Linked DNA regions of Homo sapiens. The protein of the gene in region 3 purifies or fractionates together with the protein of the main gene of each other region. This does not show direct contact. Each region holds a gene or a part of one and is shown on either strand. Other genes may lie near its edges.

Region 1 (3,652 bases), on a different chromosome or scaffold from region 3:
GTCTTGTTCACAGAATCCCCCAGCATCTAATATGGTACCCAATCCATAGTAGATCCTCAAGAAAAGTTATGTACAAATGAGTGTATGAAACACATGCTTGGAAGAGATACAGGAAACAGGCTCAAATTCTGGATCACAACCTGCATAGCACCATCTGTGATCATGCAAAATTTTAATAAATTATAATATGACCTAGTCTTAAATTCACAGAATCAGATAACAAATGAACTGCCCTTATAGAACTGGAAGTTACAATTATAGAAATATGTTACAAAGTAGAACAAACTGTTAATTCTGGCTTTCCTCTTCTAAGCCATGCAATATTAGCTTCTGTATGTCAGACAAAAATTCTTCTTAGGCTTTCAGATAAAAGCAACCCCCTACTCCTCTCAACCTCAGGAAGATGAATTATTTGGGATGAAGGTAGCACTTCATGGGAGAAATTATTCTTTACAGCTTTTTATATAGGACCCTTGGAGCTTTGTGTATACCACCCTATCACAGCCTTACTGCTGACATTGCTATAGTGACTTCTTGCTCTCTGTGCTTGACCATTAAAGATGCAAAACATTTAGGAAAACAAAATAATTTCCCTATGAACAAGATGCAGGAAGCTGTGCTCCTGCTGCATTGATAACCCAGTGGATGTGCTTACAGAGCACCAGAGACCACAGGAAAGCATAAAGCACATCAGTGTATTTATTAGGAATTATACTTTCAGTTCATACTCTGGACATTTTTAAATCTTAGCCTGTTCACTCAATCCATTGCTCTTTCACTGCCTTATTTGGAGTATGCGCAGGTACTTGCAAACTAATTTTAAAACTAACCTACCTCAAAGTGAGTATGGGGAACAGATGTGTGAAGGATATTCTAAAGATAAGTGACTTGTATGTTACCTGTTTTTATTTTTAACTCTATGGCACTGCTTCTTTTCATTTAAATCTAAAAACTAGACGGTGAACTTTTTTGTAGATTGGGCCTGTGTTCAGATACTACCTGGCACATAGTAAACATTCAGTCATTGTTTGATTAGGCATTGAGCATTTGCCATATTTGGCTTTTTATATCCCATGAATCCTTATGCCTTGCTCATCTTCTATTCCCCGCCTAACCTCCTCTTCTCATAGAATGTGTGTAAGAACTGCAGCGGAACCTTCTGTGATGCCTGTTCAACAAATGAACTGCCTCTTCCTTCAAGTATCAAGCTTGAGCGAGTTTGCAATCCCTGTCACAAGCATCTGATGAAGCAATATTCTACCAGCCCATCATAAGACTGGAGGCCAAGACCTGGACCAAAACGTTTATGCAGGCTCCTCTGTACCTGTGTTTTAGCTGTCAGGATCTCATAGAGCCCAGTTCTTAGAGTCAACTAAAGAGTTGATAGGAATTTACTAGGTCCAGGGAGAAAAGGCAGTGGTTGGGGTTACTGGAAATTTTGCTCATTTTCTCTAATGACTGTATGAATAAAAGTGAACTTACTTGAGCCTTTCTCTTCTAAATCTAAACAACCTGATATTGAAGGTTTGCTTTATAGCATATCTTTGGAAAGGCAACTCATTTTTATGATTAGTGATACTGGGGTGGATTTAATAGGAGAGAGAATCCAGGCAGATAAGAATAAAAAGGAAAATGATCATCTCCTTCTATAGCATTTGCAGATTCAAGGGGGAGAGGTAGATGCTGAGATCAAAATGACAGTTGTTACTTATTTTTCCAGGTGCTGTTAGTATAAACATTGTTTCCTCTTCACCCCTGCTAACTACCTCTTTAAAGTATTTCTACCAAACTGTGAACCCAATCTCAGGGAAAAGAAATTAAAAAGTAATATAAATTCTGCATATATTAAAAACAATATTGTAATATGTTATAATTTCAGGACCAGAATTTTCTGGTCTTTACCTACAAGGGTTTTCATTATCAAAAAAAAGAACATTTGTTTTTCTACTTTATGACTTCAAAGTAAATAACTGCCCTTTTCAGAATCTCCTTCCACAAAACAAGCCAACTCTTCCCCATTCCCTCCATCTTCCTTTCCAAGTCATAATGGAAATTGTAAGGAGTTTTAAAAATAGGGTTTGGCTTTTGCAAATAGAAGATATTGATTAAAGCAAAGTCAAATATAGAGTAAAATAAGTTTAATTTGTTTTCTTAAGACAGGGTCTTGCTCTGTTGCACAAGCTGGAGGGCAGTAGTGCAATCACAGCTCACTGAATCCCTGTTCTCCCGGGCCTCAAGCAATCTTCCCACCTTAGCCTCCCAAGTAGCTGGGACTGGCTTTTTTTTTTTTTTTTTGGCCGGGGAGGGGGTCTCATTGGTTGCTCAGCCTGGTCTCAAACTCCTGGGCTTAAGCAGTCCTCCCACCTTGACTTCCACAGTGCCGAGATTACAGGCATGAGCCACCACACCTGGCCAAGTTTAATTTGTTCATGGCTGAGAACAGTTAGCTCGGAATACTTACATTGTTTTTTGAATAAGGAATTCCTTATTCTGAGTGAGTCACGAATGAGAGCTGATAGATGCTTTCTTGAAAAGGGCAATACAGTCATCCCTTGGTATCCATGGGGGATTGGTTCCAGGAACCCAACTTGATATCAGAATCCATGGGTGCTCAAGTCCCATTATAGAGAATGGGTTATATGGTATTTGCATATAACCTACATACATCCTCCTGTGTACTTTAAATCATCTGAAGATGATTACTTATACCTAATAAAATACCTACACATCACTTCATTTGCATGGATTCAACATAGTGCTTGGTGTTCAGTAAATTCAAGTTTTGCTTTTTTGGAACTTTGTGGAATTTTTCTTTTTCTGAATATTTTTGATTGGCAGTTGGTTGAAGCCATGGATGCAGAACCCATGGATATGGAGGGCTGACTGTACTTACTTACATATCTATCTATCTTTGAGTAACAAACTCTTTGGGGGAAAAGAGGGAAGTGTATTGAGCAAGAGAAGGCAAAAAACATTACATAATATTTTGATTCTGTTACGTGTGTCTATAGATTGTTTCATTCTAATCAAGACCTAAGAAGGTATGATTCTGTGACTGATTTAGAATTCTGGGGTGGAAATATCCTGGAACCATGTTTTTTAATAAATTCTGTCTCTTGGAAAGAGTTAACAACAGCCTGGGAAAGAGTTGTTATTCCAAAAGTCAGCCTGTTACTTGGTGAAGCTGAAGTTTAAGAGTTCTGGGGAAAAATAAAATCTAGTAATTCCAGCCTAGTTTGTTGATTGATGATTGTCTTTTTTTTTACCCTAAATAACAACATTTCTTTTTTGAATCTTCACTCTCATTTTTTGGCCACCTACATGAGCTAGCACTCTTTTAGGTGCTATACATGATGTGGGGCACAAAAATGGACTACAGGAGTGTTGCCCTAAATTAGAAAGTTATTTTATAACTAATTTTAAATTAATTTGAAAAGATCTTTGTAACACAATATAAGGAGGAACAGTCACTTGATACTTTACTTAGAATTACACATAAATATTAGCCTTAAAAAAATTTAGGCTGGGCGCGGTGGCTCACATCTGTAATCCCAGCACTTTGGGAGGCCAAGGCAGGCAGATCACGTGAGGTCAGGAGTTCGAGACCAACCCGGCCAATGTGGTGAAGCCCCATCTCCACTAAAATAAATTA
Region 2 (3,652 bases), on a different chromosome or scaffold from region 3:
TTTGTAGACAATCTGATTCTTCCTTCTGAGGGTTAAACGTCACAGGTTCTGTAGCGCTGACAGCCTCGGCTGGCTGTTTATTGGCATCCAGAATCTCGGGAAAGCCGGAGGACTGCAGGAGCACCATGGAGGCTCTCGAGGGCTGCCCTGCAGAGCTGAGACACAGAGACTCCTCAGGTAGCCTCCCGGGAAAGGGGGGACCCATTGATGCACCTCCCTGTGGAAACCCTGGGGTTCACAAGGTCCAACAGTCTGACGGCACAGCACGTGACTGGTTCCATCCCACCCAGACCCACACCTCACCTCCTGGTCTGGGTTCCCACAACAATAGGGGCATGCAAAGGCGTGAACGGCAGCTCCTGTAACTGTTCGGCAATGGATGTTTCCAGGACCAGGGAGGTCTGGCTCAGGTCGGCTTCCAGGTGGGAGATACCGGCCTCCAACGGGAACTCCTGCTGAACAAAACGAGGGCTTCCAAGTGAGGCCACCAAGGACCCCAACCCGTAACAACCAACGGTGCTCAGATCTAAGGGGATTCATCGATTAATTGCCTCTGGAGGGTTGCCAGCTCTAGCAAATACAAAAGGTTCAATTACACTTGAATTTCAGGTAAACAACAAATGATTTTAGTATAAGTATGGTCCCTACGATATTTGGGATATACTTACACTAAAAAATTATTTGTTGTGTACCTGAGGTTCAAATTTAACTGGGCATCCTATATTTCACGTGGCAATCCAATGTGTGAGTTGAGAAGCGGTGAGGAGGGAATCCTAATTTTATGAGCAGGTCAGGACCGTGGGAGATACCTGACACCTGAGATGGTAAATTCATATCAAAGCATGTTTATAGAACAGAAAGATGAAGCTTCCTCAATACTCCAAGATAAACTGTGGCACCGAGCCCCTGGCTGGCGTGTTTGGACAGTCTCTTGTCCCCACAGCCCCTGAAACTTCTTGTCATTCACTCGTATTCCACCTCCACTCCCCTCCAAGGCCGAGGCAGGCCTCTCAGAGAGGAGCTGGCTTGGGAGTTGGGAATGTGCTCTCTCAAGCTTCATTCCCAAGCTTTCTGTTTCAGCCCAGAGGAAACCAGGTCACCCTCACACCATGTCTCATGCGCCAATAATAAAAAGCTAGGCAAGCTCTTCACAAACACATGAGCCCCAGAGATGCTTTAGATAAAGCAGCAGAGACTCATGGTGCTAGGAGTGTTTTCAAACAAGGAATTAAAAGAAACTATTTTTCCTCAACATAATTCCAGTTAAGACCAAAGATGCAGTTTGCAGGTGAACCAGCCGACTTTGGAAACCAAACTCCATAGGAATTCCCCAAGGCCAGTGGCAATGCCAGTCTTAGCCAGGAGCACACCCTGAAGCCAGGATGGCGGGCTCCACTCACCTCCTTTAGCTGCTGATAGCAAGGAGGGTCCTGGGGTGCTGGGTGCCTGTCTCAGCCTGTCTATAGATATAGCCACACCTTCCTTTTACTTTCACGTAGAGACCTAGGGGTAGCTTAACTTTGTTTTCATGGGTAGAGCACAATCTGAGTCAAGCGCTGTGGTATGAAGAACTCATGGGCCACATTCTTCTTTGGTCTCCAAGACAGAATGGTGACAACTGTCTGAGGCCTCAGAGTAAGCAATGCCCCACTCCCACCCACATCCCAGGTAACCCGCCAAGGTCTCTGCCACCTAACTAAGGACAGGCACAGTGCAAAAACCCAAAATGAGGAGCTGTGGAGCCATTCCTTGGTGGAAGGCAAGGCGGCAGGTGGGCGGCACTTACTGCCTGGGCCGGGGAGGCCTGAGAGCCATGGGGTAGCTGTGAAGTAGGCCTGGCCAAGCAGTGCTGAGTCGGGGACCGCGGGGAGGCCGCCAGCTGGGAAATTGACAACTGGAAGGAAAGAGAGCACAGGTGAGGGGCTCAGAAGCTTGCCAGTCCGTCCACAAAGCTCCCAACATGCACTGGCCACACCGGGGAACGGGGTAGCCCTGGATCCAGCCACGGAAGGGAGTGATGCCTGCAGCCTCCTGGCCAGGGCAGCTCTGGAACCTGGGACCGCTTCTCAAGTTCCTTTATTTAATGACAGAGAGGTGATTCCATGATCTCCCCCAGATCATAATATCTGAATAAGAATATTATTAACAAGGAAAACAAGCAAGAAAGGAGAAAGCATCTCAAGCTACAGGGGCGGCCTGGCCTCTGCCTCTCTGTCCCTTGCCAGCACTGGACTGAGCACCTCCAAGGCCCTGCCAGTTCTAGCCGCCTGCGTTCCTATCGAACAAACCTCCCTGTTAAGGCAATGACCATCTTGATGGCCAGCGCGGGCTCTGGAGACAGCTGTGGATAGAGTGCCCGTGCCAACGTGGCATTACCGTGGAGTGCCCGCACCAATGTGGCATTACTGTGTAGCCTCAGGCAAGTCAGCTAACCTCTTTTTGCCTCAGTCTCCTCACCTGTAAAATGGGGGTAATAATAGTACCTAAACTGCAGGACTGTTAGGAGAATTAAATGACAATCCTGGCTAGGGTTTGGCATAGTACCTGGCACACGGTGAGCCTTCTATAAATACTGCAGATATTTGGAAATGAGTGCGGCTTAAAACACTGATGCGGAGGGCTGGGGGCCCACGCACTACTGAAGACACAGATCTCAAACCCGGACTCTAACTCCAGTACACACAGCCAGCACCTGAGACATTCACTGTCAGCAATGATGGCTGGCCCACACCAGGTGCTGGCAGAGAGGCCCCAATGTATGAAGAGGCACTGAGGAATGAATGGGGGGCGGGGTGCATGAAGCATCCCCAGGGGACCCTGGCAGCATCTTCAGGGAGCAGAGGAGATCTTTGGGGCCTACCCAGCTTCCCTCAGACCCTATACGGTATCGTGACCACTCGGGGTCACGTGGAAACTGCTCCAGGGAAAATGCCAGGTTGGGCCAGCAGGGAAGCCTGGGAGGCCGTCCACAGACTTGCGCCTTTAGGTGAATCCAGTATTCTTCACTCCTGATCCAGTTTCCCACTGCAGATGACACACTAAAGCTGCTTCCTTGGAGACAGCCATGGATACTGAATTAGTCAACTTTTCTAGAAAGTCAATTTCCAGGATGATGCTGGCAGACAAAGTCATCAGCAGGAACAAGCCACATCTGACCTCACTGCAAATCACATAGCTAAGGCCAGCCTTGGAGCCACAGGTGAGCGCCACGGGTGTCTCGGGACTCCAGAACGGCAGCCAAGCAGGAGCTCAGCTCAGACCGCTGGCGGGCAACGGCCCAGCGGGAAGGCGCCTCTCCTCCCACTCAGGAAGTTCCAGCGCCACGGGGATCTGTGCGGTCGGACGTGCAACTGCCAGCAGCTTGTGGTTCTCAGCAGTGCCACTGTCTCCACCAGCATCGGCTGCTTGGCCGACAGGGCCAGGGGACACCAATAGCTGCCAGGCACCGCTACTGGTGGAGTTAGTCTGGGAGAGCAAAGAGGGTGAGGACCACACCTCGATGTCTCTCAGAAAAAGCAAAGGCCGTCCAGTCCTGAGAGTTGCCACCATGAGATGCAGCTGCCAGGGAGATGTGGAGACGCCCCATACAGCAGCATAGGGGTTGCAAGCAGCAGCCCCACTAAAAGCCCGCACTGGGAGTCAGAACATCAGG
Region 3 (3,652 bases):
AAGCCGTCCTCCTACCTTTGCCTCCTGAGTAGCTGGAACTACAGGCACACACCAGTACACCTGGCTAATTTTTTTTTATGTTTTGTAGAGACAGGGTCTTGCTACGTTGCCCGGACTGGTCTCAAACTCCTGACCTCAAGTGATTTTCCCGACTCAGCCTCCCAAAGCACTGGGATTGCAGATGTGAGAAACCGTGCCCAGTCAATTTTTATTTTAAAATAAGTGATGCATATGGGATTTAAAGTTTTAAAAAGTCAAGTAGTTTATAGTAAAAGGTTTATAATAAAAGAATAGCAGTTGTTTTTACTTCAACATCCCAGATTTCTGCTGTTTAGGGCACCTACTTTCAATCTCTACATATTGCTTTCATGTTTCTAAACTACCTTGCTTTGACCACTATTTTTTGAGTTATGGGTATCAGGCATCATATGCTAATTTCTTACCATGGTGACAAAAGTTTAGAATGCCCCTCCCCAACCCCCTTTATCTCCAACCTCTTGACAGTTCTATCATGTTTTTGTTTAGGTTTTTGTTTTTGAGGCAGGATCTTGCTGTGTTGCCCAGGCTGGTCGTGAACTCCCGGGCTCAATCAGTCCTCCCACCTCAGCATTGGGAGTAGCTAGGACTACATGCTTGCACACCTGTGTCTGGCCTATTATGATGTTTTCTGAGTCCAGTATCAATACTAAGAATATTATGACCACACATTGCTAGTAGCACACCATCATCCCTGTACCTTGTTTCTTGAACAACACAGTTGTGCAAGCTTTCTGGGTAGCTCTGGCTCATTTTCTCCCAAATATTCCAACATCTCATATGCCAGTCGTGTATAGTTCTGTGTTCAAGCACAGTCTGTCTTTTCAGAGTCCTTTATGCTGCTGTTCCAGTTGGGGCAGGTGGCTCTCCTGGGCCTTTGTGCAGCTGTCATCTTGACTCTTCACTTTGTCACCATTTTCCCGTGGTGAGACCCATGGCTTCCCAGTCTCCTGGCCGTCCTGGGTAGGAGAGGGAACTGAAGGCTTTAACTACTCTATACTCAGACTTTGAACCAATCCCTGAGTTTTCACTCTCCCACAACATAATTTGTAGTTTCCTCCCTCTAGCCAAGTCATCCAGCCCCTTTCCCCTCTCTTCCAAAATGAGTTGAGACTCCTCATCTCTCATTGCCTTTTCTTTCTAAGACAGTGGCCTTTACTGTCGTTTTCATAGTGTTTGGGGAAGAAGTCTGCCTTGTTCAGCTGCAGAAAGCAAACGAGAATTTTTCATGAATGATGGCTGCTGGTGCATTAGGTTACCACTGGCTTTGATGAATTCTCCCACTCATGAGGTTTTGACTGTTTTAGATTTTATCCTGTCTGTGTATCCCTCTGCACATTTGTTCTGTTAATACTGGGCTGAAAAAAAATACATATTAAAAAATACGTATTTTTACATATATACATAAATATACATATAATTATTAAAATTTTTTTCTATTTATTTTGCCATTAGGCACTTTTTTTTTTTTTTTTTGAGATGGAGTCTCACTGTGTCGCCCAGGCTGGAGTGCAGTGACACGAGCTCGGCTCACTGCAACCTCTACCTCCCAGGTCCAAGTGATTCTTGTGCCTCAGCCTCCTGAGTATCTGGGATCACACCTAGCTAACTTTTGTATTTTTAATAGAGATGGGATTTCACTGTGTTGGACAGGCTGGTCTCAAACTGCTGACCTCAACCCATTTGCCTGCCTCAGCCTCCCAAAGTGCTGGGGTTACAGGCATGAGCCACTGCGCCCAGTCCATCAAGCACTTCATTTTATTTATTTATTTTTTGAGATGGAGTCTTGCTCTGTCGCCCAGGTTGGAGTGCAGTGATGCAATCTCGGCTCACTGCAACCTCCGCCTCCCATGTTCAAGTGATTCTCCTGCCTCAGCCTCCTGAGTAGCTGGGATTACAGGCGTGCGCCACCACGCCTGGCTAATTTTTTGTATTTTTAGTAGAGACAGGGTTTCACCATGTTGGTCAAGCTGGTCTCGAACTCCTGACCTCAGGTGATCTGGCCGCCTCGGCCTCCCAAAGTGTTAAGCACTTTACATCAAACAAATTAATGTATCTGATCAGAAATCAAAGAAAAATCAGGGCATTAGGTATGTCATTCACACTTGGGTGTTGTTCCATTTGAAAGTGAGGAACCCCATTAACCTCAGTATCTCAAGCAGTTGTCCGAGTATAGTGTGTGTTTTGGGGCGTGTGAAAGCGCTTTCGACGGCGTCATTCATTAAAGGCTCCTTCTCCAGCATGGCTGCGCCTGTTCATTTCCATAGATTAGGATTTCCCCAAGTTTCCTTCTGTTTTGTCAACTTCATTTTTCAAGATGCTTATAAAAGAAAGGAAGCTTCATGCAGATTTTATTTGCTTGCCTGATTATGCTTTTCATGGTATTGTTCTTGTTAGAAAAATCAATCTGATGATTTCCCTTCAAAATTTCATCACTTGGCCTATAAACATAGCTGGCTAACTCCTATATATTACAGTTTTGTTTTTTGTGTTTTTGAGTCAGGTTCTCGTTCTGTCGCCCAGGCTGGAGTGGAGTGGCAAGCAGCTGGAACTATAGGCATGTGTCACCACCCCTGACCAATTTAAAAAAAAGTGTTTTGTAGAGATGGGATCTTGCTGCGTTGCCCAGGCTGGTCACAAACTCCTGGCTGCAAACGATCCTCCCGCCTCAGCCTCCCAAAGTGCTGGGTTTACAGGCGTGAGCCATCACACCCAGCCTGTTACCATTTACACACTGCTGGTAAGGGTTCTCTCCAAGCTAGACATCAACTTTTAGGCTCATTTACATTTCTATAGTTAAGAGAAATAACTCTGGGAAACATCATCAATCACCATTGTCTTTTTCTGTGCAAGCTGCAATTCTATCAATGCCTAGTAAACCCACTCTACTTTTTTTACAGGAAGCCCCTTCTTCACAGGACATCCTGGTGTTCCTCACTGGGCAGGAGGAGATCGAAGCCATGAGCAAGACGTGCCGAGACATTGCAAAGCACCTCCCAGACGGCTGCCCTGCGATGCTGGTCCTTCCTCTGTACGCCTCCCTGCCCTATGCACAGCAGCTCCGAGTCTTCCAAGGGGCCCCAAAGGTGAGTGCACCACCTCTTCTGTCCAGCCCTATTCTGGGCACCCAGACGGATCCACCAGCGAGGTCTGTACCTGTTACCAGGCTCCAGATAAGGTGTATGGGATGGGATACCCAGGTGCCAGATCAGCGCACTGAGGAGGTGCAGGAATAAAATGCGCGGTGACACACGCAGCGCTCCTGTGACAGGAGCAGGGAGACAGTTGTTGGGATGAGGGAGAGTATAAACCAAAGCTGCAAGGTAAACGAGTGACTTCTAAGGACCAGCATAAATTGCATTTGTCCATAGTGCCATTTCTTGTGTGCCTTTGCCGTGCCAGGCACTGTGCTAGCATTTATATCCACTGTCTGTCATCCTCGTGGGAACCGGCAAGGCAGGTTATGATCCCATGGGGATCCTGAGGCCCCAAGAAGGGAAGTAACAATTGCTCAAGGGGGCGCATAGTAAGTCACTGGCAGGGCCACGATTCCAACCCACATCTACTTGCTTCTGATTCCTGTGCTTGTTCCACTGCATCTCATTGCCTCAAATTG

What was found.
Region 1: the proteins of DHX33 (region 3) and RUFY3 purify together in Homo sapiens (affinity purification with mass spectrometry; one large-scale study listed by BioGRID and IntAct). This does not show direct contact.
Region 2: the proteins of DHX33 (region 3) and NPHP4 purify together in Homo sapiens (co-immunoprecipitation; one large-scale study listed by IntAct). This does not show direct contact.

What each region holds. Positions count from the first base shown.
Region 1 is NC_000004.12:70,805,386-70,809,037, forward strand, and holds the end of RUFY3 (protein RUFY3), read left to right. Parts: intron 1-1,130; coding exon 1,131-1,274; 3' UTR 1,275-3,234; downstream 3,235-3,652. UniProt on the Homo sapiens protein: ARL8 effector that promotes the coupling of endolysosomes to dynein-dynactin for retrograde transport along microtubules. Acts by binding both GTP-bound ARL8 and dynein-dynactin.
Region 2 is NC_000001.11:5,905,329-5,908,980, forward strand, and holds part of NPHP4 (nephrocystin-4), read right to left. Parts: intron 1,895-3,652; coding exon 1,787-1,894; intron 456-1,786; coding exon 304-455; intron 156-303; coding exon 1-155. UniProt on the Homo sapiens protein: Involved in the organization of apical junctions; the function is proposed to implicate a NPHP1-4-8 module. Does not seem to be strictly required for ciliogenesis. Required for building functional cilia.
Region 3 is NC_000017.11:5,455,467-5,459,118, reverse strand, and holds part of DHX33 (ATP-dependent RNA helicase DHX33), read left to right. Parts: intron 1-2,936; coding exon 2,937-3,122; intron 3,123-3,652. UniProt on the Homo sapiens protein: Implicated in nucleolar organization, ribosome biogenesis, protein synthesis and cytoplasmic dsRNA sensing. Stimulates RNA polymerase I transcription of the 47S precursor rRNA.